Linked DNA regions of Homo sapiens: region 2 is linked to region 1. Evidence: fine-mapped QTL for protein levels in blood plasma. A gene starts in region 1. The other region holds a variant in brackets. All regions are shown on one strand. Distances are from middle to middle. Region 1 holds the start of GPHA2 (glycoprotein hormone subunit alpha 2). Region 2 overlaps MAJIN (membrane anchored junction protein).

What was found. PIP is the posterior inclusion probability: the model's chance that the variant is causal. Protein levels are from antibody-based Olink assays in UK Biobank. Linkage for the fine-mapping came from a reference panel and not from the study's own genotypes, which makes the PIPs less certain.
Region 2: its variant is fine-mapped to the plasma level of the GPHA2 protein (UK Biobank, PIP 0.93).

The regions. Positions count from the first base shown.
Region 1 is chr11:64,934,848-64,937,681 of GRCh38, forward strand. GPHA2 (glycoprotein hormone subunit alpha 2) reads right to left here and starts at 1,046. Exons shown (of 4, transcript NM_130769.4): 1 at 987-1,046; 2 at 511-613; 3 at 144-328; 4 at 1-27. The coding sequence starts at 613.
Region 2 is chr11:64,961,233-64,964,138 of GRCh38, forward strand. The region is part of intron 1 of MAJIN (membrane anchored junction protein); the gene reads right to left. Among named protein-coding and RNA genes, the nearest start is that of MAJIN, 9.4 kb to the right of the region's middle. The variant C/A (reference allele first, on the strand shown) is at 1,093.

The DNA.
Region 1 (2,834 bases):
CCCCACACACTGCAGCTGTACTTTGACCTGCGGGAGAGGGGAGTCCGTGCTGCAGTCCCCTTTCTCAGGGCTGTCTAGGATCTCCATCTCTCTGGTCTTCCCGCGACCCCAGCGTCCATCCACCGGGCCCGGGCCCTCCTCACCTTCTTCAGGCCACTGATGGTGCAGCACTGAGAGACGGAGGTGATGTTGTGTCGGTAACCACTGGCCACCAGCACAGAGTACCGAGAAGGGAAGGCGCTGGACTCACAGTGGCCCACACAGGCCTGTGCCACGTGGGAGCCCTGGCAGGTGCCTTGGCGGTCACTTCGCACTGTCACATTGAAGGCTAGAAGGAGATAGGCAAGCAGTAGACGGCGCCTCTGCCAAGGTTTGCCTCGCCCCAGCTCCCGTTGCCTGTGCCTCAGTGTGGGGCCCTTTAGGGTGCTGCCTGCCCCACCGTCCACTCAGCTCTTTGCTCCCACCCAGAACCTCCACTGCTCCTAGCCCTCCGGTCCCAGAGGTACTCACGGTGCAAGTGGCAGCCTGGGATGACTGCCTCCTGGCCCCAGGCTTCAGTGACTGCCAGGACCAGCAGATAGAGGACCAGGGTTTGAGGGGACGCCATAGGCATCTGAAACACAGTGGGGAGATGTCTCTACGTGGGTGTGCAGGTGGGATGGCGAGTTCTTTAAATACTGCATTCCAGGTGAGTGAGCCAGGGCTGGCTGGTCTGACAGGTGAGGTGTGCCTGAATGGTGCTGCCTTTTCCCTGTATCTGCCTTTGTGTGTGTGTGTGTGTGTGTATGGGTGTGAGTGTGAGCAGCTGTCTCTGGAAAGGACCTGTGTGTCAGCCCTCTGTGCAGTGATTCTCCCTTCCCTGGAATTTTCTTCGCCATCTGGAGCGCAAACATCTTCCTCCCTCCATCTGCCCCATCTTGGCCTGCAGGGCCCTCGTCCACATTCCCAGACCCTCCCCAGAGCTCCTCCTGCCTCAGCGAGCTCACCACTTCCGAGGCCCAGGAACAGAGCGGCTTGCAGTTTTCCTGTGCCTCCTGCTGGTCTCCAGCTTGGTGCTGGCTCTCCAGGCTTTTATTTGCCAGCATTTTGGAGCCACGCCCTCTTGGAGATCGGCTTTCAAACCAGCCTCCCCTGCCTGAAGCCTCAGAGCGATCCCACCTGGGGGATCTTGCTCTTTGAGGTGCGGTCCTCGGAGAGCAGCTCCTGCTGCTTTCTGCTTCTTTCTGTCCAAAAAGCTACCCACAGCCCAGGCCTCGATAAGTCAGATGTGGAGAGAAGCCTAGGAGCTGGTGGAGTGTGCAGCGTGTGTGCAGCTGACGACACAGGGGTCAAGACTCTTGGCTGAGTTGTGGACACCTGGGTTCTCTTTGCTCTGTGACCTTGGACAGAACATTTCCCTGTTCAGGGCCTGATCACCCCTAACTTTATTATTATTTATTACTATTATTTTGAGAGGGTCTGGCTCTGTCACCTAGGCTGGAGTGTGGTGGTGTTATCTCGGCTCACTGCAACCTCCACCTCCCAGCCTCCCAGACTCAAGCCATCCTCCCCCTTAGCCTCCTGAGTAGCTGGGACCACAGGCACACCACTATGACCAGCTAACTTTTGTATTTTTTTGTAGAGACAGGATTTTGCCATGTTGCCCATGGTGGTCTTGAACTGCTAAGCTCAAGTGATCCGCCTGCTTAGGCCTCCCAAAGTGCTAGAATTACAGGCATGAGACACTGTGCCTGGCCACACCCCTAATTTTAAAACCACTAAACTCAGTCCTGCTTGCCTTTTTCTAACTGCAAAGGAAAGGGATTGGGGAAGGAGATTCTTAGGGACAAGGGAAATTATACCAGTGGAGGTCTCCTGAGATGTGCTTGGTGGCAGGGCCGGGGGTTTGGGGGTTGCTGTCTGTTTCAGAGTTGCATGGCCACGGTATCAGTGGATGATTCGCATCCTGTGCTACAGAGTAACGTTCTGAGCTGGAGTGCTCCCCTAGCCCTGGAATAACAGGGACCTGACTCCTGAAAGGGCCTGAAGTTATCAACCCCAGCAAAGCTGATCTATTTGTCCAACTCTGGTTTTATAGATGAGGCAACTAAGGCTCAAAGAAAGAAAGTTACTAAAAGTCACCCAGCTAGTTAATGTTAGGGCTGATTTCAAATTCAAATCTGCTGTCCATCCATGGTGCTAAACTACACTTGAGCAAGAATGTGGCAAGCTGGAGAAAGACCCCCAGGCAGCAGTGGCCAGAGGGGTTGGGGCAAGGTGGAGAGCCAAAGGAAGCCTGTGGTGATTCTGGGCAGCCCCGCTTTGGGGTCATTGCCTCACTGATCTGCTCAGAAAGAGCAGGGCCAGTCACAGACTGCTAGAGCTAGAAGGCACTTTATAACTCACCAAATCCTACCCCCTCATTTTCTGGATGAGAAAATAAGAGCTCAGCGGAAAACAACTTCCCAAAGCTTCACTGTAAGCTAGTCAGAGTCAGGGCGGGCACTCACAGCTCCAGATTTGGAGCTGTGCTTCTTAGCAGCTTTGTAAAACAGGCCATGTTTGGGACAGTCGAGTAAAGGCTGTAAACGCAATTTGAGAGGAAGTGATGTTACTAATGTCACTAATCCTTAAATTCCCACACCCTACGGTTTCCCCATCAGCCCCCATCCCCTCAAGACCTGGGTCCTTGTTTGCCAGGTCCTCCGCAGCAGTCCACCTCTTCTCTTCTCCCCACCAAGGGTGCAGGCAGCATAGCAACAGGACGCAGCGGGAACTCAGCAGTTCAGCCCCTGCTCTCCCACTCTTGAGGGGCACCCTCTGGCATGTGACAGATGATGGCTTCTGTTTAAAGC
Region 2 (2,906 bases), 26 kb after region 1:
TCTCGGCTCACTGCAACTTCTGCCTCCCAGGTTCAAGTGATCCTCCTGCCTCAGCCTCCCGAGTAGCAGGGACTACAAGCATACACCACCACGCCCAGCTAATTTTTGTATTTTTAGTGGAGACGGGCTTCACCATGTTGGCCAGACTGGTCTTGAAGTCCTGACCTCAGGTGATCTGCCTGCTTCGTCCTCCCAAAGTGCTGGGATTACAGGCATGACCCACTGTGCCCGGCAATTTTTTTTTTTTTTTTTTTTTTTTTTGAGACGGAGTCTTGCTCTGTCTCCCAGGCTGGAGTGCAGTGGCGTGATCTCTGCTCACTGCAAGCTCCACCTCCCAGGTTCACGCCATTCTCCTGCCTCAGCCTCCAGAGTAGCTGGGACTACAGGCGCCCGCCACCAAGCCCGGCTAATTTTTTTGTATTTTTAGTAGAGACGGGGTTTCACCGTGTTAGCCAGGATGGTCTCGATCTCCTGGCCTTGTGATCCGCCCGCCTCGGCCTCCCAAAGTGCTGGGATTACAGGCATGAGCCACTGCGCCTGGCTCTTTTTTTTTCTTTTCTTTTTTTTTTTTTAAGAGACAGGGTCTTGCTCTGCCATCCAGGCTGGAGTACAGTGGTATACCCATAGCTCACTGCAGCGCCAAACTCCTAGGCTCAAGGGATCCTCCCACCTTAGCCTCCAGAGTAGCTAGGACTACAGATGCATACCACCATGCCCAGCTAATTTTTAAAATTTTTGGAGACAGGGTCTCACTATGTTGCCCAGGCTAGTCTTGAACTCCTGGCCTCAAGTGATCCTCCTGCCTTGGCCTCCCAAAGTGCTGCATTACAGGCATGAACCACTGCCATCTGGCCAGGGGATTCTACTAGGATGCAATAACTTGCCTCCCGCCCCACCCCTAACAGAGGGATGGGGCATCAGAGCAAAGGAAATGAAGGACATTTGCTGGAAATGACAGTCCGAAGAGGAAATTTCATGTGTTGTACCACAGCTGGCTGTCTGAAAGAAGAAAAAACAGCCCTCTTCTAGCTAGGGCCTGTTCCTGTTAATTGCTGGCTGCCCGATTCAGAAACAAACACCATACACTAATTA[C/A]CTCATTTGAAAATAAAGATTAGACAGTGTATCCCAAACAACCACATAGGAGTAATGGTTCAAATATTTCACAGGGTTATTTTCCAACATTGAGTACTGTGGCCATGGTGATATTACGTCCCAGTAACTATTATTAAGTTGATGAGATCTTGCTTATGAAGGGTCAGACTCTCCACGCATTTTTAGGTGACCACAAATCATGGCTTTAAAACAAAGGAAGAAAACTTACAGGCAGTATGGGATAGTGCAAAAGACATAAGATTTGGAATTGGAGGACCAAGGCTTGAGTCCTGCTTCTGCCTCTATTAGTCATTAGTCCCTGAGCAAGTCACTTAACTTCTTCATTTCCTAGTTTCTATGTCTACAAATGGGGATTCCAACGACCCCTGGAATGTGGGGATTAAATGAGATAATGCTGTAAGTAGCTACTTTGTAAATTCCAGAGTATTATATAAACGTTAGCACTTACGATAGATTTGAAGAGTTTCTCCCTAATGCTTCACTAGAAAAGCAAATTCAAGGCCAGGCATGGTAGCTCACGCCTGTAATCTCAGCACTTTAGGAGGCTCAGGTGGGCAGACCACCCGAGGTCAGGAGTTTGAGACCAGTCTGGCCAATGTGGCGAAACCCCGCCTCTACTAAAAATACAAAAATTGGCCGGGCGTGGTGGGGGGCACCTGCAATCCCAGCTACTCGGGAGGCTAAAACATGAAAATTGCTTGAACCCAGGTTGCGGAGGTTGCAGTGAGCCAAGATCGTGCCACTGCACTCCAGCATGGGGGACAGAGTGAGAGTCCATCTCAAAAAAACAAACAAAAAAAAGCAAATTCAAGAGAGCACTACTTTCCAGGAAATCAATTCTTGAGACAGCACATACGTGCAAAACTGATTAGCTTTAATCCCAATGCAAAATCTGACAAATTCCAACCAAGAACTTTTCCTTGAAAATACCCAAGAATTAGATGTAAATGACACATAGGGACTGATGTTTGAAGGAAAATTATTTTTCAAGGTTTTGGTAATTTGCTTCACATAAACATCTGGATCAGTGCATAGAACCTGAAGCAGGGCCAAATGCTATATGAGGATAATAATATTGACTACTGAGGCAGAAGGAGCTTATGATTTAGCACTCTGCTACTAAATATGTCTGGTGACAACTGATAAAGTCTTTCACAGTGTTGAGAAATAAAAGAGCTTCCATAAGCACTTATTCAAAATACATTGACTGGGCTGGGCGCAGTGGCTCACGACTGTAATCTCAGCACTTTGGGAGGCTGCAGCAGGTGGATCACCTGAGGTCGGGAGTTTGAGACCAGGCTGGCCAACATGGTGAAACCCTGTCTTTACTAAAAATACAAAAATTAGCTGGACATGGTGGTGGGCACCTGTAATCCCAGCTACTTGGGAGACTGAGGCAAGAGAATCGCTTGAACCCGGGGAGGTGGAGGCTGCGATGAACCAAGATTGCGCCACTGCACTCCAGCCTGGGCAACAGAGCAAGACCCCATCTCAAGACCATTAATGAGTGTGGGTAACAAAATATAATATGAAAATCTGATGCTATGAATCCAACACCTGTGTTTTAGAAATGAGATTGAGGACAGATGACTAGCTGCTCCTTCCACATTGTTTTTGAGACGGAGTCTCACTCTGTTGCCCAAGCTGGAGTGCAGTAGCATGATCTCAGCTCACTGCAACCTTTGCCTCCCAGGTTCAAGTGATTCTCCTGTCTCAGCCTCCCACGTAGCTGGGATTACAGGCATGCACCATCACACCTAAATTTTGTATTTTTTTTTAGTAGAGACAGGGTT